Regions from separate parts of the Homo sapiens genome. Here regions 1, 2, 4 and 5 are each linked to region 3. The links come from fine-mapping of genetic effects on gene expression. A gene starts in region 3. Each other region holds a variant in brackets. All regions are shown on one strand. Distances are from middle to middle.

Region 1 (5,107 bases), 71 kb after region 3:
TAATACGTAAGTTGTTTTACCTGATGGTGCCCCATAAATTGCTTGAGCTACCTTCACTTTTTCTTTTCTTTTTTCTCCTCAGACTGGATGATTTCCAGTAACCTGTCTCAAGTTAACCAATCTATTCTTCTACTGGATCTTACCTACTCTTAAACCCCTCTCTTGAATTTTTCAGTTAAGTTATAGTACTCTTCAGATATATGATTTTCAATTGATAATTTTATGCTTTCTCTTTGTTGATGTTCTCATTTTTTTCTTGCATTGCTCTGTTGACCCTGGTGAGCATCTTTTTGACCATTATTTTGAATTTTCTCTCAGGTACATCACATATCTCCACTTCACTTCAGTTAGTTTCTAGAGATTTACCATATTCTTTTCTTTGGAATGTATTTCCTTGTTTCTTCATTTTCCATGACTCTCTATTTTGGTTTCTGTGTATTAGATAAGACAACTACCTCTCCCAGTCTTGTCAGACTTGTCTCATGTAGGAGAAAGTTCTCACTAATCTGTCTGGCCAAAGATTTTAAGGTGCCTCTCAAATATTCGAGTTCATCCAGACTGTTGTCTCTGTTTAGGGTTGCACTGTGGAGCTTAAGATGTGCCATGTTCTGCCAGTACCTCAAGACAGGGAAGTTAGGAGCCAGATTATCTTAGATGTAGCTGGAAAGATTGGGGTGTTGGCTATGTGTTTCAATTACTTCCATCTTCATGGTGAAGCTGAATGTGGGTGTCTATTTCCCACTCTTTCTGTGCTAAGCCAGGTAGAGGATCTATGGCAAATGTCTGAACTCATGTTTAGGCTGTGCCCTCAGATCCTGGGGAGATAGCTGCTGGATGTGGGCCCATTGTATGTCCACCTCTTTTTTTCTTGGATCTAGGACCACTCAAGAATGCAAAGTCCCATCAACTCCCAGAGCTAGTTTGTTAAGAAGACATTACCTTGGGTGGAAGTTATAGAAGTTATGGCACTTGCTGTGTAATCAGACTTTTTTCACGTAGAATGGGGGAGGCCTAGATTTATCATAGGGGTAAGCCAAAGGAAAGGATCATGAAGTGTCAAGCTCTGTTTTGGCTGCTGCAGAGCTATTTGTTTGCCCTGTTAGCTCCCCAGTGCAAGTCCATTAGAAGCCAGCTTGTCAAATGACCACTTGAAGTATGTTATAAGCCCCTTCTGGAGAGAAGATGGAAGCTACATGTTTTCACCCCTTTTTGGGACTTTTCCAAGGGGATGTAGCCGTTAGAAGTGTTTGCACACTTGTTCAAGACCACCCCTTTGTTCTGTGATCTAAGGAGACTCACATATGCCTACTATCTTCTGCTGTCAGAGCTAAGAGTAGTTTAGAGAGGGAATATTTAGGGAGGTGCTATAAAAGTTGGAGCACTTGATATGTGGCATAAACCCCATTTGAGGAGAAATAGCTGTTTTTAAAGCCCCTTCTCTGCACTGCCCCTATGGTATGACGTCCCTGAAATGCCTACATGCCCATATAAAACTGGCACTTTTTTCTGTGGTGCAGATAGACTCACATATACTTTGTTCCCTCTGGTTTCAGAGATAGGAAGTTTAGGACACAGTCCGTTGAGTGGGAGCTGTAAAATTGTGGGTGCTCAATATACAGTCAGACTCTCTTCCATGAGAGATTAATAAACCTGGAGTTACCTCTGGCATGAGCCAGGGGAGAAGACTCAAGAAGTGCCGGTCCACTTCTTAGGCTGTCAGCCAAGCTATATTTGTCTGCCTCTTTAACTTCCTGAAGCAAGTTCGTTAGAAGACAAGCAGGCATGTAGCCACCAGAAGAGTGTGTTATAGATTCCTTCCAGGCAGAAAGAAGGGGCTGCATATTTTAGGCCCCTTCTCTGCACTGCTCTTGGGGGATGAAGCCCCAGAAGTACTCGAGTGCCCATAGCAAACCACCACAATTTTATTGTGGTCTAGAGAGTCTTGGGTGTTTAATCCTCTTTGTTCTCAGAGCCGGTGAATTAAGAACCAGACCATGGGAAACCTTAGAGTTAGGGTTCTACATGTGAGTACAAATCCTCTTCTCCACAGGAAGAAGCTTGATATTAGGGAGTCCTTTCCAGATAATGTGGAGCAGTGTCTAAGGCAGGGTCCTATGCCTCAGCTTTTCCTTCCCATTTGATGTGGAAATTTTCTTAGTCGCCCAGTGTGTAGGAGTCTCTCAGCTGGTCCCTGACTTTCTCTCGGAGGGAACTGATTCGTGAATAGATGTTTATTTGGTGCTTTTGTGGGTGGAGGGAGAGTCAGGAGCTTCCTGTTCTGCCATGTTGCTGGCATCACTACCTCTTACCTCCTGCTTTTTAATGATTATTGTTGGAGTGATAAATCTTTCTCTGTCCTTTCACTTTTAATCTGTACGTGTCTTTATATTTAAAGTATGGGTTTTCAAATATTGTTTGTTCTCACTTACAAGTAGAAGCTAAGCTGTGAGGACGCAAAAGCATGAGAATGATATAATGGACTTTGGGGACTCGGGGAATGGTGGGAGTGGGGTGAG[G/C]GACAAAAGACTGCTTATTGGGTACAGTGTGTAGTGCTCAGATGATGGGGGCACCAAAATCTCAGAAATCAGCACTAAAGAACTCATCCACATAACCAAAATACCACCTGTACCCCAAAAACTATTGAAATAAAAAATAAAATGAAATATGGGTTTTGTGTAAACATCTTATAGTTGGGTCTTTTTTTTTTTTTAAATCAATTCTGACAATCTCTGTCTTAATTGATATATTTAGAACATTGATGTTTAAGGTGATTATTGATAGAGGTGGATTAATATTTAGTTAGTTTGTTTTCTGTTGTTATAACTAAATACCTAAGACTGGGTAGTTTATAAAAAAAAGGGATTTATTTCTTAGAGTGCTGGATGCTAGGAAGTACAATGTAGAGGTGGCACATTTGGTAAAGGCCTTCTTGCTGATGAGGACTCTCTGCAGAGTTCTGAGGTGGTAGAAGACATTACATGGCAAGGGGCCTGAGTGTGTTAACTCTTACTTCTCTTTTAAAGCCACTAATGCCCCATCCTCATGATCTCATCTAATCCTAATTACCTTTCAAAGGTCCCACCTCTCAAATACCATAGTTGGATTTCCCACCCTCTTAATACTGTTATGATGGGGATTAAGATTTAATATGAGCTTTAGGGCCAGGGGGACAAACATTCAGACCATAACATGTGCCATATTTGTTACTATTTTTATTTGTTGCCCTTGTTCTTTGTCCCTATTTTTGTCTTTGATGCTTTTTATGCCTTTTATGGTTTTGAGCAGTTTTTATGATTCCATTTTCTCTCCTCACTTAGCATATCAATTATATGCCTTTTTAAAAACTTTTTTTAAAGTGGTTGCCCTAGAGTTTGCATATGCATTTACAACTATTCTAAGTCCATTTTAAAATAACACTATACCTGTTCACAGGTAGTGTAAGTACCTCGTAATGACAGAATATTCCTAATTTCTCCTTGTCCTTAGATCTTTCATCTCATTCATTTCACTTATACATAAGCATAATTAAACATGTATATATACCTATGCATATACAATTAAATACGTTGTTTCTATTAATATTTTAGACAAACTGTTGTCTATTAGATCAATTAAGAATAAGAAAATAAAAGTTTTTATCTTTCAGGTTTTTTTTGTCTAATGCTCTACTTTTCTCTGTATAGATCTGAGTTTCTGACCTATGTCATTTTCCTTTTCTCTGAAGAACTTCTTTTAACATTCCTTGCAAGGCAGGTCTACTAGTAATAAATTTCTTCAATCTTTGAGAAAGTCTTTATTTCTCTTTTACTTTGAAAGGATAATTTTTCAGGGTACAAAATTCTGTGTTGGGATTTTTCTCTTTTAGCACTTTAAATATTTCACTTTACTGTCTTCTTGCTTGCATGGTTTCTGAGGAGATGTCAGATGTACTTCTTATGTTTGGTCCTGTATAGCAGGGTTCCCAACCATGGCCTGTTAGGAACCGGGCTGCACAGTAGGAGGTAAGCGGCAGGCAAGTAATCGAAGCTATGTCTCTATTTATAGCTGCTCCCCATTGCTCGCATTACCACCTGAGCTCTGCCTCCTGTCAGATCAGTGGCAGCATGAGACTCTCATAGGAGCATGAACCCTATGGTGAACTGTGCATGTGAGGGATCTAGGTTGTGCACTCCTTATGAGAATCTAATGCCTGATGATCTGTCACTGTCTCCCATCATCCCCAGATGGGACTGTCTAGGTGCAGGAAAATAAGGTCAGGGCTCCCACTGATTCTACATTAGGGTGAGTTGTATAATTATTTCATTATATGTTACAATTGATGGTGGCATCAGCCCATTTGGAGCAACTGCTGAGGGGATGCCAGCTGCAGTGTGGGAGGTGTGGCCAGGGCTGTACGCTCCATGGAGCTGGCAGGGGCCAGGAACAGGTGAGAGCCCTGCCTGCTACCAAGTTGGCTCCCCACACACCCAGGTGAAGCTACAGCCACCCAGCCATGGCTCTGGACCTAGGCATCCCTGCACTCTTGGGGGCCCAGGAAGCCCCCCTTCCCCTGAAGGCTTGGAAGTACCTTTTCCTGCTCCCTGGCCTTTCCCCACTCCTGACTGTCACTCCAATTTCAGAGCAAAGTTGAAGCCAAGCCTGAACACTCTTGTGACCTGGCCAGGGGTGCCACCCCACTGCCTTGGCTCCTTCTGAAACTGTGGGTGCTGACAAGCTCAGGGAGGGAGGATGTCGGGGGGCTGAAGGTAGCTCAGCATGGGCCTACAGGCCTCCCTCATCCTGAACAGCCTGGGCAACATGGATGGCATGTTGATGGTGGCAGGAAGCAGGCAGATTCATTCCTAGGCAGGAAGGGGTGGGTCACTGGTGAAGCCCCACCTTCAAGCCAGGGACAGCCTGAAGCCTGAGGGCTAGGCTGCCGGTTCTGGATGGAGTCCACAACCTGAAGTGAGAACTTATGGTGCTTTTTCCAGGTCCACCCGTGGACCAGTCAGCATGCACTTCCTCCCTTCTGAGCCCACAAAAACCCCAGACCCAGCCAGATGCACACACTCATCAGGTCAACCTGCCTGCAGAAAGGAGCTACCCACTATAGGTCTCCTCTCTG
Region 2 (5,107 bases), 170 kb after region 3:
CCTTGGTTCATGCCTGCTCCTAGTCCCATCCCCGTCATCGAGACAGGACACAGTCCTCCAGTCAGCTCAGTCTTTCATCACTGATTCTTGGCACAGAGAGGGTCTTATCGCTGGTTCCTTCAGATGCCACAAACGTCCTCTCTAGCCTCCTTTCCCCCTAACACTATCATTCTAGTCTAGCGCCTCACCCCATACCTGGGCTCTTTAGTAAGTTCCAATAATATGTGCGGAGTGCCTACCATGTACTATGTTGAACACAGAGGGAGGATGCAAACTGAGTCAGTTAGGACCCCAGAGCAGGGAAGCTTATCTAGACTTACAAATAACCAAGTAGATAAGGTGTGGGAGGCAGAACAATGGCCCCTAAAGGATGTCCACATCTTAGTTCCCAGAACCTGTGACTATGTTTCTTTGCATAGCAAAAGCAACTTTGCAGATGCAATTAAATCAAGGAATTTGAGATGATGAGATTTTTCCTGAATTATCTGCATGGGCCTAATATATTCACAAGGGTCTTTACAGAGGAAAGGCAGAAGGGCCCAAGTCAGAGAAGGAGATGTGATGACAGAGACAGAGGTCGACGTGATAAGGGGACATAAACCAAGGGATAGAGGCGGCCTCTAGAAACTAGAAAAGACAGAGAAACAGATTGTCCCTGAAGTCTTCACAAGGAACCAGACTGTTGCCCCATTGTGGACTTCTGACCTCCAGAACTATAACATAAATAGTGTTGATTTAAGCTACTGAATTTGTGGTAATTTGGTTGTTTTTTTGTTTTAAAATTTCAGCTTTAATTTTAGATATGGGGGGTACCAGTGTAGGACTGTTACATGGGGATATTGGACCCAGGTAATGAGCATAGCACCCAACAGTAGTTTTTCAATCCACGCCCCTCTCCCTCCCTCGTGCCTCTAATAGTCCACAGTGTCTATTGTTCCCATGTTTATGTCCATGTGTGCTCAATGTTTCACTCCCAGTTACAAGTGAGGACATGTAGTATTTGGTTTTCTGTTCCTATGTTAATTTGCTTAGGATAATGGCCTCCAGCTCCATCCACGTTCCTGCAAAGGACATCATTTCATTCTTTTTTCCATCTGCATAGTATTTCATGGTGTATATGTACCGCATTTTCTTTATCCAATCCACTATTGATGGGCACCTAGTTGATTCCATGCCTTTTTTATTGTGAATAGAACAGCAATGAATATACGAGTTCATGTGTCTTTTTGGTACAATGATCTATATTCCTTTGGGTATACACAGTAATGGGATTGCTAGGTCAAATGGTATCTCTGTTTTAAGTTCTTTAAGAAATCTCCAAGCTGCTTTCTGTAGTGGCTGAACTAATTTACATTCCCACCAACAGTGAATAAGCCTTCTCTTTTCTCCGCAGCCTTGCTAGTATATGTTCTTTTTTTTGACTTATTAATAAAAGCCATTCTGACTGGTGTGAGATGGTATCTCATTGTGTCATTGTGGTTTTGATTTGCATTTTTTGATGATGAGTGACAATGAGCATTTTTTCATATGTTTGTTGGCTGCTTGTATGTCTTCTTTTGAGAAGTGTCTGTTTATGCCCTTTGCCGAATTTTATGGGAGATTTGTTTTTTACTTGTTGATTTGTTTAAGTTCCTTATAGATTCTGGACTAATACATAGAATAAAAGACAGAGAAAGGAAAACTTACAATGGCAGAGGCCAACCAATACCATTTGGATGAAAAAAGATATGGGAGCACAGGAGAAGGTATGATCCATTCTGCCTGGGATATGGGAAACTTCCAGTGTAAATAGTTCTCCCAGACATCTCTCTACTCCAACCTGGTTACTAACCTGCCTACTGGAGTCTCTACAAGGATATAAAAAAGACTATTCAACCTCAATACTTTTGAAGCTTGTGAATTTTACCCCCAAATCTGTTCTTCCTTTAGTGTTTCTTCAGTGAGTGACACCACCACAGATCCCTCTGCATGGCCAGAAACAGGAACTCTCCATGCACGGGAAGCTGTGTTCTATGAACCAGCATTTGTCAAAATACTGGGCACCTGACTGCAGCGCAAAACAAATTCATTGTCATTGCTCAACAGATTTCTTTCTCTTGAGTGTAATCATTTATTTTAAACTGGAATTCATTCTAAAAGGGGCTAGACATTATTTCCAGATTCCAAGTGTAATTTAAAAAATTCGAAAGATAGGAGTGTCTGAGTAAACTGCAAGAGAAAGAGGCCTATTTTAGATGTGAAACCCTAAAATAATGGGATCACATTTTAGGAGGTATAAAAGCCATTTAAAACCATAATAGAACACCCTTGATTTTTGCTATTCAGAGCAAAAGATCCAAAATCAAAGATAAAAATCCATGCTAATTCAGAACACATTACATTTTTACCCCTTATTACTACTAGATAGTATACTATACTATATACTACAGCATTATACCACAGTGGTATGCTATATTATACTACAATATTCAGCCTCCAAATACAATGCAGACCATATATTTAATCAAGGCTTTATAGGTTTTGAAGAATGTTTAGCTTCCCCTTTGGAAGCATCTAGCTGTGACTCAATAAAGCCTCACAGTGATGCTTGCTTGAGTTACTGTTCTCATAGTTAGTACCTGAGCCGAATGCTGGGGCACGATGCTTATTACATATTGCTTCTTTTTATTGGCCACAAGTCATTTCCCTAAGGAAAATTCATGAGCTTTGTCAATTAAGACTTCACTAAGTGAGATCCCACTGCAAAAGTAATTAAGATAAAACAATTTCTGGAAAGAAATCCAAGTTTTCAGTGAATATTGTTTTCCAGCATTAACACTTTTCTACATAATTCCTTTAGCACAGAGATCCAAAAAGGTTTTGTAATTTTCACTTTGAAGTCTATGTAAGAAATGTTACTTTTAAGACACTGGAGAAGGCTGGGCACGGTGGCTCACGCCTGTAATCCCAGCACTTTGGGAGGCCGA[C/G]GCGGGCGGATCACGAGGTTAGGAGATCGAGAACACGGTGAAACCCCGTCTCTACTAAAAATACAAAAAGTTAGCCGGGCGCAGTGGCAGGCACCTGTAGTCCCAGCTACTCCTGAGGCTGAGGCAGGAGAATGGCGTGAACCCGGGAGGCGGAGCTTGCAGTGAGCCGAGATGGCGCCACTGCACTCCAGCCTGGGTGACAGAGCAAGACTCCATCTCAAAAAAAAAAAAAAAAAAAAAAAGACACTGGAGAAATCCTTCCTGAAGAAGGAAAAAATTAATTATATCCAATCTTTCTCTGGCCCTAGATTTAGAGGGAAGGCTGTTTTGATTGCCTATACAACCAGCGCTCTCGCCCATCTCCTTTCTTTTTAAAAACTTGAGTTACCTTGTAGTTTCCTATATGCCTTGATATCTGAACTTGGGAAAGGTTTGTGGTTTTGAAACACACACCCTTTCTGAGAATAGGGCGAAAATATTACAATCTTGTAACCTATCTTTGAAAATTAAGGATTGTGAGAAATAGAGAATTGTTAGGAGTGATACTTATATAAACCTTGAATCCAGGGTTGTGCACATCGGTGCACTTTGTAAATGATGGTAACCAGCATCAAAAAGGAAAGTGGCTCTCTGAGTTATTTTGATACCAATGGAAGCTACCCTGGAAGTCTCTAATGCATTGGGGTTATTCTGTTTGCTATTTCTCACTTGATTACAAAGAGTGTTTGTAATAAAGAAAATATCAAAACTAAACATTTATCAATATTTGTGGATTATTTAGGGTTTGTGCCTATGAGTAGAATTTCTGGGTCTTAAGCTTTTTTTTTAACTTTACTAGACAACTGTTATCTCTAATCAGGAAGGCTTTTGGCTGCAGGTTACAGAATAGCTAATAGTTGTTTAGGCAATAAAGATTTAATTACCTAACATTGTCAACAAAGGATCCAGCCTCTTTCCCTCCTTCCATTCTGCTACCTTTAATGTGTTGACTTTGGTCCTCTTGCTTGCCACCTCATGATCACAATATGTTTTTCAAAATTCCAGGCATCACAGTCTCAGTCCAGTGTCCCAAACAAAAGAAAAGATGTATGAAAAAGGAGTTTCCAAGACACATGCACTCGTATGTTCATCGCAGCACTATTCACAGTAGCAAAGGCATAGAATCAGCCTAGGTGCCCATCAACAATGGATTGGATAAAGAAAATGTGGCACATATACACATGGAATGCTATGCAGCCATAAAAAGAATGAAATTGGCCAGGCGCGGTGTCTCACGCCTGTAATCCCAGCACTTTGGGAGGCCCAGGCGGGTGGATCACAAGGTCAAGAGATCGAGACCATCCTGGCCAACATGGTGAAACCTTGTCTCTACTAAAAATACAAAAATTAGCCAGGTGTAGTGGCAGGCGCCTGTAATCCCAGCTACTTGGGAGGCTGAGGCAGGAGAATTGCTTGAACCCGGGAAGCGGAGGTTGCAGTGAGCCGAGATTGCACCATTGCACTCCAGCCTGGGCAAAAAGAGTGAAATTCCGTCTCAAAAACAAAAAAAGAATGAAATCATGTCCTATGCAGCAACATAGATGCAACAGGAGCCTGATATCCTAAGTGAATTCATACAGGAACAGAAAACCAAATACCACATGTTCTAACTCACAAGTGGGAGCTATGAGTACACATGGACATAAAGATGAGAACAACAGACACTGGGGACTACTAGAGGCTGGATGGAGGGAGGGGACAAGGGCTGAAAACTGCCCTTTGAGTACCACGCTCAGTACCTTGGTGATGGGATCATTTGTACCCCAAACCTCAACATCTTGCAGTATACCTATGTAACAAACCTGCAGATGTACCTCTGAATCTAAAATAAAAGTTGAAATTATTTAAAAAAAAAAAGGAGGGGGGCGGAATGAGTTTTCTTTCTTTTCAGGAGGGAAAACCCTTCCTATGCTTCAAGGATAGGCCACTTCTGACCTAGGATAAGGATGTGGCTGAAGAATAGAGAGGTTCCCTCCACCTCTCCCTCGGAGCCTTTCATGTCTTAACAACCAGAAGTTCTACTCAGATTTCCCTTAATGCCTCATTGGTTAGGATGAGATTGCATTGTCATGCCTTGGTGTCAAGGAAATGAGAAAGCAAAT
Region 3 (5,107 bases):
ATGAAACTAAAAGAAAAAAAAAGCAAAGTGATCATTTCCACACATGTAGAAAAGCCTTAATGAAATCCAACATTCATTCTTGATAAAAGTGCTCAAATCTTCCTACATCTTAATAAAGGGCATCTACAAAAAACCCTGGGCTAACATCCATATTTAAGAGTAAAAGACTGATAACTTTCCCTCTAAGATCAGAAGCAAAGAAAGGATGTCTGGTCTCATCACTTTTATCCAACACCGTACTCAAGCTTCTAGTCAGTGCAAAAAGACAAGAAAAAGAAATAAAAGGCCTCCAGAATAGAAAGGAAGTAAAACTGTCTTTATTCATAGATAACAAATCCTGAATATATAGAAAATCTAGCAAAATCCACAAGAAAAGCTGTTAGAACTCATAAGTGGTTTTTACAAAATTGCAAATACAAGATTAATGTTAAAAATTCAATTATACCAGCCTGGGCAACATAGTGAGACCCTATCTCTACAAAAAAATACCAAAATATTAGCCAGGTGTGGTGGCACAGACCTATAATTCCAATGTATTAGTCTGTTTTCACACTGCTATAAAAAACTACCTGAGACTGGGCAATTTATGACAAAAAGAGGTTTAATTGACTCACAGTTCTGCAGGCTTAATAGAAAGCATGACTAGGAGGCCTCGGGAAACTTATATTCATGGCAGATGGCAAAGGGGAAGCAAGCACGTCTTACCATAGCAGAGCGGGAGAGAGAGGGAGAATGAGTGAGGGGGAACTGCCAGAGAGAGAGAATGAGTGAGGGGGAAGTGCCAGACACTTTCAAAAAACCTGATCTCATGAGAACTCACTATCATGAGAAGAGCAAGGGGGAAGTTCGCCCCATGATTCAATCACCTCCCACCAGACTCCTGGGGATTACAATTTAAGGTGAGATTTGGGTGGGGACACACAGCCAAACCATATCACCCAGCTACTTAGGGGGCTGAGGTAGGAGGATTGCTTGAACCTGGCAGACAGAGGTTGCAGTGGGCCATGATCACACCACTGCACTCCAGCCTGAGCAACAGAGCAAGAACCTGTAACAACAACAACAAAACCCCCAATCATATTTTTACACACTATCTGACATAGTTTGAGTATTTCTCCCTTCCAAATCTCATCTTAAAATCTGATCCCAAGTGTGGGGCCTAGTTGGGGGTGTCTGGGTCACAGGGGCAGATCCTTCAGGAAAACTTAGTGCTGCCATTGCATAATGAGTTCTCATTCTGTTAGTTGCCTCCAGAGCTGATTGTTAAAAAGAGCCTGACCACTACCTCCCCTTTCTCTTGCTTCTCTTCTGGCCATGTGATCTGCACAGGCAGCCTCCCCTTCACTGAGTGGAAGCAGCCTGAAGCCCTCACCAGAAGCAGCCTGCAGAAGTGTGAGCCAAATAAACCTCTTTTATTTGTAAATTATTCAGTCTCAGGCATTCCTTTTTAGCAACACAGACTAAGACACTATCAAAGAACAACTGAAAATTTAAAATGTCATTTACATAATATCAAGAAGTATATTTTTCCCCCATCCTTAGATTTATGGATAAATCTGACATAGGGTGATATGGTTTGGCTGTGTCCCTGCCCAAACCTCATCTTGAACTGTAGTTACCATAATCCCCAGGTGTTGTGGGAGGGACCCGGTGGGAGGTAACTGAATCATGGGGGTGGTTATTCCCATGCTGTTCTCTGATAGTGAGTGAGGTATCACAAGATCTGATGGTTTTCTAAGGGGCTTTTCCCTCCTTGCTCCTCACTTCTCCTTCCTGCAGCCCTGTGAAGAAGGAGGTTTGCTCCCGCTTCTGCCATGATTTTAAGTTTCCTGAAGTCTCCCCAGCCATGCTGAACTGTAAGTCAATTAAACGTCTTTCCTTTATAAATTACTCAGTCCCAGGTATGTCTTTATTAGCACTGTGAAAATGGACTATATAAGACTAGACCTGACAAAAGATCAAAACATTTGCTGAGTGAAATAACACCTAAATAAATGAAGAGGCTTACTTTAAGGGTCATTACTAAATATTGTTAACATGTAAATTATTCTTACATGGATCTATAGACGAAATGTAACCAATCACAATCCCAACTTTTTAAAGTGACAAGCTGATTTTAACATTCATATGAAAACCCAAGGGACTAGATGAGCCAGAACATTTTTGAAAAATAACAAAAAATTGGAGGCCAAACACGATCTGATTTTAAGACTCTTACGAATCTACAGGAATCAAGACAATGTGGTATTTTTGTAGAGAGAAATATAATAAATTGTCGGAACAGAATAGAAAGTCTAAGAATAGACCCACAACTGATGCTTTAGGGACAACTGATTTTAAACATAGGTGCAAAAGCTATTCAGTGAGAAAAAGAAAGCTCTCTAAACAAATGACACTATTCACATACAAAAAAATGACCTAAGATCCATACTTTGCACCACAGACAAAAATTAGCTCTAATTGGATCACAGACCTCAATATAAAACCTAAAATTCTAAAACTTGTGTCAGAAAACACAGAAGAGATCCTCTGTGGCCTTGGGTTAGGCAAATTCCTTGGACAGACAAAAAACAAACCCTAAGATCCGATCTGAGCCGCCGCACAACCCTGCTCTGGCCACTTAGCCTGAGGTCACTGCTCGGGTCCCGCCCCTCTCCCCGCCCGGGACCCTCCTGGCTCCGCCCCAATCCGCCCGCTCCGCTCCACCCCGCCCCGCTGCCTCGTCTCCATCCGGAAGAGCCGCCGGGGCAGGGAAGTTGAGGCGGTGCGCGGCCCGGCGTCGGTCGAGAGCGCAGGCCCGGCAGAGCCGCAGGCGCTAGGCCGCCCGACACAGCCCGCGCGTCCCCGCGGCCGGTGGCGCCTCGAGCGGCCACGTGCACGCGCGCACTCCGCCTCACCAGCCTTCTTGCGCCGGAGACGAACCCGCTGCCTGGCTGGAGCTCTCTGGGCCCTTCGGCCTCGGGAGCAACGCGTTCCCGGCGACTTCTGACACAGCCAGTAAGTGATAGCCGCCTCCTCCTTTCGCGGTTATGTTTTTCTCCAGTTCGTCCCAAGTCTCGTTCCCGTCTCATTACTTCAAAAACTATTCAACTCCGGGACCGGACAGGCACGGGAGCTGCCCGGGAGAAGAGCCCCAGAAGTCTCAGAGACTGCCAAGGTGTTGTGGGGCAGGGGCTGCGTGCAAAGACCCTGTGAATTAGAAAGTTTGGAAAGCATGCCTCCAAAACCGAGCGACTCCACGTTTGCCAGGCGCCCCTGGGGCAGCCGAGCGGCCCGGAGGCGCGAAATGGCGCGCCCCCGCAGTGAGAGGGGCGGAGGGAGTGGGGCGGGGCCGAGGGCGCGCGTCCCGCCAGCCCGCGCGGAGGGGGCGGGGCTCCCGGCAGGTGCAGGCGGGCGGGGCGGGGCTGCCGCGATTCCCGGAGACAGCTGGGGGATGCCAGTGCAGTTAGGCACTCTCCTGTCTTCTTTTCGACGCTTCGCTGTGGTCAAGAGGACAAAGTAAAGCAAATGATTTTATTTTGACCCCAAATATTCAATAAGAAAAGGAAAGAGAACTTGAAAGTTGTGAAATGACCCTTCTCAAAACAAAAAGTCCCTCCAGTGTCTATCTGGGTGGGTAGTAGGTACGTTTATTGATTTAGCAAACTGCTGATAACACAGTTGATTAGTCAGTTTTGCATAGATGTTGAAAGGGAATGAATAACGATGGTCCATATAACCATAGAAATGCTAGCCTAACTAGGCAAAATTTAATCTGACCTTAATTTGAACGTTGAATTCTGCTGCTGCCCTTTTCCTGCCTTGTGTGGAGCTGTTTTTCAAATTGCTAAATTTGTGGCTCTAAACTTAATATGCTTTAATAGAATCATAGTGATTCTCTTGTAGCCACTGTTGGGAGTCCAGATTTTTTTTTTTTTTTTTTTGGGCAAAGTCCACATTGTGGAGATATTCCTTCCCAAGTGCTTTTTCTGCTTTACACTTGGCTGAATTTATATTGCTTAACCAAAAACAAATTACCGTGGAGGCCGTAATTTATTTCCACTCATTGTTTTGGATATACATTTACTCATTCTTACTCTCACTCTGGCCTCCTATAGTGGTCAGGATTCTTGACCTAACTGCTATATGTACTTCTTAAACGTTTCACACCTTGCGGAATAGTAGGTTCTCAGAGAAAGCAAAATATAGCAAATAGCGTGTATAACACGTACTTAGGATGATAAACTGTGAACTTTATAGCAGTCTCCTTTAATATTCGTATTTGTAGAGTCCAGTACAATAAATGTTGGACAAATGAAGTAAGTCAAATTTAAGTACACCTCTTCTCCAGTCCTCAATCTCTTTCCAAACGAAATAAGTGTTTCTCTCTTTTTTTTTTTTTTTGAGGCGGAGTCTCGCTCTGTGCCCGGGCTGGAGTGCAGTGGCGTGGTCTCGGCTCACTGCAAGCTCCGCCTCCCGGGTTCACGCCATTCTCCTGCCTCAGCCTCCTGAGTAGCTGGGACTTCAGGCACCTGCCACCACGCCCAGCTAATTTTTTTTGTATTTTTTTTTAGTAGAGAACGGGATTTCACCGTGTTAGCCAGGATGGTCTCGATCTCCTGACCTCGTGATCCACCTGCCTCGGCCTCCCAAAGTGCTGGGATTACAGGCGTGAGCCACTGCGCCCGGCCCCAAATAAGTGTTTCTTATTTGGACAGCTGGTTTCTAACTGTCCAGTGCTACTTCTGAGATCGTCACCTCATTTAAATTTAACCTCCCTCTCCTTTGACTCCTATTCATATTGCATTTTTGACCACTGGTAGTGCACTGTTTCGTTTTATTTGCCCCTTGGATTTCTGAGGACATAGAGAACCTTTTACTATACTTTTCATTTGCCAGCATAGTGCCTTGTACATGATAGATATTAGGAAATGGACATTGAATTGGGTTTATACATATGTAATTTGTTATCCGTCTGTATACATGAAACTAGAATGGGGATAGGTGCTTTTTATCTGTAGATACATACTTTTTAATAGAGTGCCAGGGGAATGAGATAAAGTAATGGTATATGCTGTATTTATTTTCAATAATACTTTTTTATTATTTGAAGACTCAGTGTTTTTTC
Region 4 (5,107 bases), 120 kb before region 3:
TGGTTGTACAACTTTGTCAATGTGCTTAGAACCCACTGAATTGTACACTTTAAAGGGGGTGAATTTTATGTTACATAAATTATATCTCAAAGCTGTTATTAAAAAAAAATTGTCACAAGGCTCAGTTACTCAAGACTCAAAGCGTGAATATTCCTGAGTATAGGACCTATAAGGCAAGAAGTCTATGTGAATTTCTCTGCCTACTTTAATTTTATCCTAAGCAGTAACATATAACTTCACAGATTTGGTGGGCCACTTAGGTTTAGTGACGGTTAAGATAAATGCATACATATCAAATAAAAATATTGATTACCTAAAGTCCCTTCTTATGTCACACTTTAGGAAATTCTTGCTCTTGTCTAAATGTTTATGTCCCCCAAACTTCATATGTTGAAATCTAATCCCCAGTGTAATAGAATTAAGAGGTGAGGCCTTGAGGAGGTGCTAAGGTCATGAGGAAAGAGCCCTCATGAATGGATTACTTCCCTTATAAAAGAGGTCCAAGGGAGCTTATTTGCCACTTCTGCCATGTGAGAACACATAGAAGGCACCATCACTACGGAACAGGCCCTTGCCACCCAGTCTGCTGATGATCTTGGACTTTCCAGCCTCTGGAACTGTAAGAGATAAATTTCTGTTGTTTATAAGCTACCTAGTTTATGGTATTTTTGTTATAGCAGCCCAAACAGACTAAAACAATTCTGAATTATTGTATATAATTGCTAAGCTAGCGTGATTCATTTTGATTGTAATTCAGTCATTTATTTCAGCTTCCCTTTTAGGGTTACATACAGTGTTTTCGTTTTCTGTAAAAAATAGTGGAGATGGGATAGTAGAAAGATAAATGTATTGGGAAGGTTGTCATTAAATTATATATGATTTTTTTTTTTCTCTAAAGGATTTGAATGTTGAGAACTTTAAGGTTTTTTCTTAAAACTTCATTACATTAACTTCATATCCTTTTATTATGGCACTGAGATTTTCTCAGTAGGGAGCACATCGTAATATTCGTCTCATTAAACTATGTGTAGTGCCTGCTGAGAAGTAGATTGGGACTTGAAAATGTTTATCACCATAGGAAACAACAGAAAAGTATTTTAAAACACAGACGCTTCTCTAAGAATTCTGTTTGGGATAATACTACTCTGTTTCAGAATTCTTAAAAACAGGTTGGCATAATATTCTAATAACTGAATTAATTTTATTGGCCCTTATCTTTGTATTTAGTAAAGCAGGTGGTTGTCAATCATTTTTCCACTCAGTTACCTCCCTTTGTGGGTGTGTGGGTGGCCATAGGATGGAGAATGGGAATGAATGTGTAGTCTTTTTAAAGGGCCACTTAGTGATTCTTATACTACATCCTACCTCTACCCTAAATTGAAAATATTGCCATAGTGATCAAAAGGTATTAATGGAAGTGTAATATCCCCTTGGTCATTGGGCAGAAAAGTGGTTAAGCACAATTGGCGTTAGGCTGTTACATAGAGAAATTTGGGGTGATGTGTTTTTAGATGTGCCTGCTTTGCTGGGAAGATAGGACCTAAGAACAGAGCTATAAACACAGGAGTCAGAGGTGCCTGAGTTATAATAGCCCATTCCAGCTCAGGTTTATCTGAAATAGCAGGTCACTGTCTGGGGGGTATGTGAGTAATTTCAGTTAGCAGGTGCTGTACAAGTCCTCTATAACTTGTAAAGTATAAACCTTGATTGAAGATAGAATGAAGTTTGTAGAGGTGCATGACCTCATTAACAGACTCAACAACTGAGAGAGGGCACCTCTCCCCTAACTTTCAAGCAACCACCAGCTTCCCTTGCTGAGTGTATGTATGACCCAAATAGCTCTTCAGTCAGGTATCAGTTCTCCAGCCCAAGGTTTGTGTTAGGAAGCACAGGGCTCTTTTCCTGAGGTATTTCGATGCCTTTGGCTGTTCTTTAATCAAATCTCATCTAATACATCCTCCACAGTGCAACCAGAATTTTAATTTCTAAAATGCAAGTCAGATCAAGTTATTCCTCTACTTAAATCCCTTCACTGGTTCTACATTACCTACAAAGAAAGGAGTGTTTACTGAATTTGGCACAATGTTATAACTTGACTGTTAGATGATTCATTATATTGGGGTACCTTCCTTTAAGACAACTCAGTGTATTTAGAAATTCAAATTCCTTATGTGTTTTGCACAAAGCCTCTACCTATACAGCTTGTGTGATACTGGCCTCTTTCAGCTAGTGCTGCTTCCTCTCCTGCCTCTGGTGGTTGGTTGTTGATTCATTTGGTGAAAGTGGCTGCCAGCTTAAATCAGGAGTGGGAATCAGATCAGATACAACTCTGAAGGCCACAGAGAAGAGTTTGACTTTTTTCCTCCTGTACATGTGTGGTGGGAAACCATCGGCAGGCTGCAAGCAAGGGTTCTGTTATGATTTATGTTTTGAGATGACCACTTTGGCTACTGATTCAGGAATGAATTGTGGCACAGCATGAGGGGAAGCCGAAAGATCAGTTAGGAGACTACTACAATGGTCCTAGGCCTAATGCCAGATGGTGGTGGCTTGCATTAGGGTGGTTGTGATGGAAATAGAGGTAAGTGCAGACATCATGATGTATTTTGGAAGTAGAACTGTTAGGATCTAATAATGACTTTGTGGTAGGAGGAGGGGAAGAGTACATAATGGAGGAACTCTTAGGTAACATATTTGTATCTTTTCATTCTTTCACAGTACATTTAGGTGTGAAAGGAAGAAATGAAGAAAAAAATAGAATGTAGGTGTCTATATCCAAAATAGCTAATTGAAATTATTTTCAGTCTTTGAATTATGCTTGAGTTAGGTAACTAATTTAGGAATTACAGGAGAATGTGTGATTGGCAGAACATTAGGTCCATTCAAGGACTGACATAATAGAGATCACTATGTGAGAGACTGCAGTCGTACCTCAGGAGATGTTCAGGGAGTCTGCACCCCAGCTCAG[G/A]ACCTGAGTCTCATACATAGATACTGCTGTCTGGGAACCTGGGCCTCCAATGGCTGCTGACTCTGAAGGCTCTGGCTTTTCAAAGAGGATTTCTCACCAAATACAACCAGAGTCTACAGTGCTTATTTTCTGTTGCATAAAATAATCTTCCAGTCTTACCTGACTCACCTCATTAACTTTTATTAATTTCCAAGTTCTTATTCAAAAACCTGTATTTGAGTCCTGCGATCAGACAAGATAACACATTATAGCCCTCTTATTTTACCTCTTACTTTACCTCTCAAACCAATAGCAGGATATTCTTTTTTTTCTTTTTTGGCAAGATACTCTCTTTTTAAAAAAAAATTTTGTGGGTACATAGTACTCGTATATATTTATGGGGTATATGAGATGTTTTGATGCAATATGAAATAAGCATGTCAATGAAAATGGAGTATCTATTCTCTCAAGCATTTATCCTTTGAGTTACAAACAATCCAATTATAGTCTTTATTTTAAAATATACAATTAAGTTATTGACTATAGTTATCCTACTGTGCTATCAAATAGTAAGTCTTATTCATTTTTTTCTTTTGGTACCCATTAACCATCCCTCCTTCTTCCTAACACCCCACTACCCTCTCCAGCCTCTAGTAACCATCATTCTACCCTCTATGTCCATGAGTTCAATTGTTTTGATTTTTAGATCCCACAAATAAGTGAGAACACGTAGTGTTTTGTCTTTGTGTGCCTGGTTTATTTCACTTAACCTAATGATCTCCAGTTCCATCCATGTTGTTGTAGATGACTGAGTCTCATTCTTTTTTATGGCTGAATTGTATTCCATTGTGTACATGTACCACATTTTCTTTTTTTAAACTTTTATTTTAGGTTCAGGTGTACATGTGTGAGTTTGTTATGTAGGTAATCTCATGTCACAGGTGTTTGTTGTACAACTTACTTCATCACCCAGGTGTTAAGCCTAGTACCCAACAGTTATTTTTTCTGCTCCTTTCCCTCCTCCCACCCTCCACTCTCAGGTAGGCCCCAGCGTTCCCTTCTTTGTGTTCATGAGTTCTCATCATTTAGCTCCCATTTATAAGTGAAAACCTGCGATATTTGGTTTTCTTTTCCTGAGTTAGTTTGCAAGGATAGTAATAGCCTCCAGCTCTATCCATATTCTTGCAAAAGACATGATCTCTTTTTTTTTTTTTTTTGAGACGGAGTCTCGCTCTGTCGCCCAGGCCGGACTGCGGACTGCAGTGGCGCAATCTCGGCTCACTGCAAGCTCCGCTTCCCGGGTTCACGCCATTCTCCTGCCTCAACCTCCCGAGTAGCTGGGACTACAGCGCCCGCCACCGCGCCCGGCTAATTTTTTGTATTTTTAGTAGAGACGGGGTTTCACCTTGTTAGCCAGGATGGTCTCGATCTCCTGACCTCATGATCCACCCGCCTCAGCCTCCCAAAGTGCTGGGATTACAGGCGTGAGCCACCGCGCCCGGCCTATGATCTCATTTTTTTTTTATGGCTGCATAGTGTTCTGTGGTGTATATGTACCCTTTTTTTAAAAAAAAAACCCAATCTGTCATTAATGGGCACTTAAGCTGATTCCATGTCTTTGCTATTGTGAATAGTGCCGCAGTGAACATTCGTCTGCATGTGTCTTTATGGTGGAATGATTTATATTCCTCTGGGTATATACCCAGTAATGGGATTGCTGGGTCAAATGGTAGTTCTGTTTTTAGCTCTTTGAGGAATTGCCACACTGCTTTCCACAATGGTTGAACTAATTAACACTCCCACCAGCAATGTATAAGTGTTCCCTTTTCTCTGTAACCTCACTAGCATTTGTTGTTTTTTGACTTTTTAATAATTGCCATTCTGACTGGTGTGAGATGGTATCTCATTGTGGTTTTGACTTGCATTTCTCTCATGATCAGTGATATTGACCTTTCTTTCGTATGCTGGTTCACTGCATGTATGTCTTCTTTGGAAAAGTGTCTGTTCATGTCCTTTGTCCACTTTTTAATGGGGTTGTTTTTGTCCTGTACATTTAAGTTCCTTATAGATGCTGGATATTAGATCTTTGTCAGATGCATAGTTTGCAAGAATTTTCTCCCATTCTGTAGGTTGCTTGTTCACTCTAATGATAGTTTCTTT
Region 5 (5,107 bases), 100 kb after region 3:
CCATCTGATCTTTGACAAACCTGACAAAAACAAGCAATGGGGAAATTATTCCTCATGTAATAAATGGTGTTGGGAAAACTGGCTAGCCATATGCAGAAAACTGATACTGGACCCCTTCCTTACACCTTATACAAAAATTAAGATGGATTAAAGGCTTAAACGTAAGACCTAAAACCATAAAAACCCTAGAAGAAAACCTAGGTGATAGCATTCAGGACATAGGGATGGGCAAAGACTTCATGACTAAAACACCAAAAGCAATGGCAACAAAAGCCAGAATTGACAAATGGGATTTGATTAAACTAAAGAGCTTCTGCACAGCAAAAGAAACTATCATCAGAGTGAACAGGCAACCTACAGAATGTGAGAAAATTTTTGCAATCTGTCCATCTGCCAAAGGTCTAATATCCAGAATCTACAAAGAACTTAAACAAATTTATAAGAAAAAAAAAAACCACATCAAAAAGTGGGTGAAGGATATGAACAGGCACTTTTGGAATGAAGACATTTATATGGCCAACAAACGTGAAAAAAAGCTCATCATCAGTAGTCATTAGAGAAGTGCAAATCAAAACCACAATTAGGTACTATGTCACACCATTTAGAATGGTGATCATTAAACAGTCAGGAAACAGATGCTGGAGAGGATGTGGAGAAATAGGAACTGTTTTACACTGTTGGTGGGTGTGTAAATTAGTTCAACCATTGTGGAAGACAGTGTGGCGATTTCCTCAAGGATCTATAACCGACATACCATTTGACCCAGTAATCCCATTACTGGGTATACACCCAAAGGATTATGAATCATTCTACTATAAAGACACATACACACGTATGTTTATTGCAGCAGTGTTCACAATAGCAAAGACTTGGAAGTAACCCAAATGCCCATCAATGATAGACTGGATAAAGAAAATGTGGCACATATATACCACGGAATACTATGCAGCCATAAAGGATGAATTCGTGTCCTTTGCAGGGACATGAGTGAAGCTGGAAACCGTCATTCTCAGCAAACTAACACAGGAACAGAAAACCAAACACTGCATGTTCTCACTTATAAGTGGGAGTTGAACAATGAGAAAACATGGACACGGGGAGGGGAACATCACACACTGGGTGGGGGGCTAGGGGAGGGATAACATTAGGAGAAATACCTAATGTAGATGATGGGTTGATGGGTGCAGCACACCACCGTTTCACATGTATACCTATGTAACAAACCTGCACATTCTGCACATATATCCCAGAACTTAAGGTATAATAATAATTTTTAAAAAGTATAAGTCACGTTGTACAAGCAATCACCAGGACTCTTTCCGTCTTGCAAACTGAAACTCTATACCTGTTTAAAAAAACTCCCATTTCCTCCTCCTCCCAGCCCCTAGCAACCACCATTCTACTTTCCGTTTCTATGGATTTGACTACTCTAGGTATTTCACAGGTAAGTGGAATCATACAGTATTGATCTTTCGTAACTGGCTTATTTCACTTAGCATGATATAGTTAAGGTTCTTCCATGTTGTAGTATGTGTTTGCATTTTCTTTCTTTTTAAGACTGAACAATTTTCCATTGTGTGTATAGACCGCGTTTTCCTTATCCATTCCTTTATCTATGTACGCCTGGATTTTCTCCGCCTCTCAGCTGTTGTGTGTGTAGTGCTGCTGAGAACATGGGTGTGGGCTTCATTACTTAACAGTGGCTACCTTACCACCATCTAAAGCAGATTTCATGCTCAATCTAAGTGACTTTATACAACTGAGAAAATTTACTGGGCCTTTGTTCAAGCTTTTTTCAATTTTGCTTCTTACTGTCTGGGGTCTAGAAGCAATTTTTTTTCCCTAACACTTCAAAACCTCAAATTTCTGAGATGTCTTCATTGCTTTTCATTTCTCTTTGAAGATTGGTCAGTTTTTTCCTGTGCTCACCACGTGCCTGCAATGCTTTGCCGAAGGAAGTTTTTCTTGTTCGTGTCAGTCTGATGTGGATTGAGGGTGGTGTGCTCTGCTCCGACAATGATTCCGGGCCCAAGCTCCTTCTCTCATGTGGCTCTCTGACTCCAGGGCTTTATCCTCTTCTGTACTCCACTAGTAAAGAGAGAGAAAAAGATTGCACAGGAAGGCTTTTAGGGGCCAGACCTAAAAGTGGTTTATGTTCTTCTATCTTTACTTCATTGTCCAGACTTGGTATCATAGCCCTACTTCACTGTAATGGGAATAGGAAATACAATCTTGCTCTATTCCCAGGATGGAAAGAAAACAAGGTTAGGTGAACATATAGCACCTGGTGCCACAGGCTGGAGATAAATTTGGAAGTACCAGCATATAGGTGGTGATCAAAGCCATAAGTAAAGATGAGGATCATCC[C/T]GTAAAGGGAGTAATGGGAGACCTTCACAAAAACAAGGGCACTTTCTTAAGGGTCTTTACTGGTAAAAATAACTTTACAATGTTAGGTTACACAAGTTATTAGTAGAACAGTTACTACTGTGTTTGTAGGACGTTTAAATGTGTGCATTAAATAAATGTAAAAGTAGTTTTTTCAGAAATTGGAATGTCTTTACTTCTTGAAGTTTAATACAAAAGAAATATGTATCAGCATCCTTTTATGACAAAGCCTGTAAATGTAAAATAATGCTGAAGTTCAGAAATACTGAACTAAGTAAAGATTTATTTTTATTTGTCGTTTAAATTATGTACATTTATTAAGCATTTACTATGTACCAGGCAGTGTGAGGATTATAACAATAAATCACAATCTCTCAAGGAAGACCACATTTAGTAGGACAAAAATAGGCTGGGCAAGGTGGCTCACACTTGTAATCCCAGCCCTTTGGGAGGCCAAGGCGGGAGGATTCTTGGGGCCAGGAGTTCAAGACCAGCCTGGGCAACATAGCAAGATTCCATCTCCACAAAAAATTTTCTGAAAATCAGCTGGGCATGGTGATGTACACCTGTAATGCTAGCTACTTGATAGGCAGAGACAGAAGGATCACTTGAGCCCAGGAGTTTGAGGTTGTAGTGAGCTGTAATTGCTCCACTGCACTACAGCCTGGGGAACAGAGTGAGACCATGTCTTTTAAAAAAAATAAGTAAGGCAAATAAGTTGATGCCGAAAATCCCAGGCAGAATCGGCAGTCTGGAAGTAAAAGCGCATTGATTTTGGAGCCCAGCAGATCTAGGTTTGAATCTCAGCTCTGCTCCTCTCAGTGTAACCTTGGGGAAGTTAATATTCCTGAACTTCTAGTTTCCTTATTTCTAAGTTTGTGATAATAGCACCTACCCTTCAGGTTGCTGTGATTAGGGATGATCTTTGTAAACCTAATGCAGTGCTTGCTTGATATTAAAAATGTAGTTATTTTTATTAATATTGTTGAAGGTAGAGTTCATATGGGATAGAAAAATGAGTTACCTTACAGTCTATGAATTCATTCATTTAGTATTTAGTGAGCCACTACTACGCACTGTATACTTAGGATTAGATTGTATGTATGTATTTGTGTTTGTTTTCTAAAGCCCCATTTAGTTTTTTTAAAAAATGTTTGTATCACAGGTCTGTACCCACCAGGTTTACATATGGTCTTCCCCACTTTCAAATGCCCAGAGACCACCCTGTCTGTCCTGGCACTGTCTTCATCCTCCCTCTTTGCTACAGGGATCTGCCTGACTTATCTCTCATAATCTCCTCTTCCTCTGCCCACTCCCGTATTTTCCTTGCTCCTATTTCTGCTGACTTCACCTCAGACAGCCTTTTTTCTTTGCATACAAATTTTTGTTAGTTCTCCCCACCCCCAACTTTTTTTTTTTTTTTTTTTTTGAGATGGTCTCTTGCTTTGTGAGTGCAATGGCACAAGCTCGGCTCACTGCAGCCTCCACCGCCCAGGCTCAAGTGATTCTCCCAACTCAGCCTCCCAAGCAGCTGGAACCACAGGTGTGTACCACCGTGCCGGCTATTTTTTGTATTTTTAGTAGGGATGGGGTTTCACCATGTTGACTAGGCTGGTTTCAAACTCCTGAGCTCTGGCGATCCACCAGCATGATTCTTAAGCTTAAGCTTTTCTAATGGAAAAATTAATTCCCCCAGTTACCTTAGGCATAATTTACCACCTTCTTTCTGTGTTCATTTTTCTTCTCATACATTGGAAAACTCTCCAATTATATCCCCTATAGATCTCCAGGTGTCCCCACCGAAGTTTCTCCCTGCTGATACTAATGCTGATACTGACACCAGCACTCCTTGCACACTTACGATCTGGCAGGCACTCTGCTCCACCTCTTCTTTCCCCAGCAGTTCTGTTGTAAACTAATTGGCAGCAGAGATCAGATATGTACCTTTTTGGATTCTCAGTACAGCTTTTTGCACAAAGGAAATGGTCTATAAATATTGGTTGGTCAGAGAGAGGATGAATGAACAATTCATTTGACCTAGCATTAAAAATAATTTTATAAAAATTATGTCATATGCAATTGTATTTTGTTTCATTGCCAGTGTTGTGGACATTTTTAAATAAGAAATACAAATAGTCCGTCTTCAGTGTGGGTTAAATGTGCTTTTGTGGGTTACTTAGGAACCGCTTATTACATTGTTCTATGGCAAATTATATTCCAAGTTCTAAACAACTGTCTTTACAAAAGCCATTTTGACACATAAATTATAAGATGTGGACTGTCCAGAATTTTTCCTTGTCACTAATTTTTTAAAAGGGAATTTAGTTTTTGGTAAAAATGCCTTGTTTATCTTTCTCTTATTTATTTAATCAGTGTCTTCTTGTGCCACTTGCCACAAATAAAGATTCTCAAACATTTTCAGCCTCAGGGAATGAAGTAGCTGCTAGCTAGAAATAGATCAGGGATTAACAAATGTAATACATGTTGCTGATGTCATAGGGCTGTGACTTGGGAGGCAGACATCCCACTATAACTAAAAATGGGCATCAAGTGCACAGCATACAAATTTACAGATTCAAATTTTTACATTTGTTATTGCCAATGAATATGTCACATTATTTTGAGAACTAGCCCATCATTAATTAGTTTAAAAACAATATCTAAGTTATGTCACATCCATCCCTATCCTGCCACGCTCCATTTAGGACTACCTTGTCCCTCT

The links. PIP is the estimated chance that this variant, and not a neighbour inherited with it, causes the effect. A credible set is the group of variants that fine-mapping cannot tell apart.
Region 1: its variant is the best candidate, but not a certain one, in a credible set for the expression of MCM9 in whole blood (TOPMed, PIP 0.65).
Region 2: its variant is the best candidate, but not a certain one, in a credible set for the expression of MCM9 in subcutaneous fat (GTEx, PIP 0.59).
Region 4: its variant is the best candidate, but not a certain one, in a credible set for the expression of MCM9 in lung (TOPMed, PIP 0.71).
Region 5: its variant is the best candidate, but not a certain one, in a credible set for the expression of MCM9 in whole blood (INTERVAL, PIP 0.81).

Annotation. Positions count from the first base shown.
Region 1 is chr6:118,861,611-118,866,717 of GRCh38, reverse strand. The region is part of intron 8 of MCM9 (minichromosome maintenance 9 homologous recombination repair factor); the gene reads left to right. Among named protein-coding and RNA genes, the nearest start is that of ASF1A, 30 kb to the left of the region's middle. The variant G/C (reference allele first, on the strand shown) is at 2,517.
Region 2 is chr6:118,761,863-118,766,969 of GRCh38, reverse strand. No RefSeq gene overlaps it. Among named protein-coding and RNA genes, the nearest start is that of CEP85L, 110 kb to the right of the region's middle. The variant C/G (reference allele first, on the strand shown) is at 2,967.
Region 3 is chr6:118,932,781-118,937,887 of GRCh38, reverse strand. It overlaps MCM9 (minichromosome maintenance 9 homologous recombination repair factor), which reads left to right and starts at 2,729. Exons shown (of 14, transcript NM_017696.3): 1 at 2,729-2,997. It overlaps LOC124901389 (a long non-coding RNA gene), which reads right to left and starts at 2,973. Exons shown (of 2, transcript XR_007059729.1): 1 at 2,898-2,973. RefSeq lists silencers at 2,551-2,980, 3,231-3,480.
Region 4 is chr6:119,049,869-119,054,975 of GRCh38, reverse strand. The region is part of intron 1 of FAM184A (family with sequence similarity 184 member A); the gene reads left to right. Among named protein-coding and RNA genes, the nearest start is that of MIR548B, 17 kb to the left of the region's middle. The variant G/A (reference allele first, on the strand shown) is at 2,969.
Region 5 is chr6:118,830,048-118,835,154 of GRCh38, reverse strand. The region is part of intron 9 of MCM9 (minichromosome maintenance 9 homologous recombination repair factor); the gene reads left to right. Among named protein-coding and RNA genes, the nearest start is that of ASF1A, 62 kb to the left of the region's middle. The variant C/T (reference allele first, on the strand shown) is at 2,368.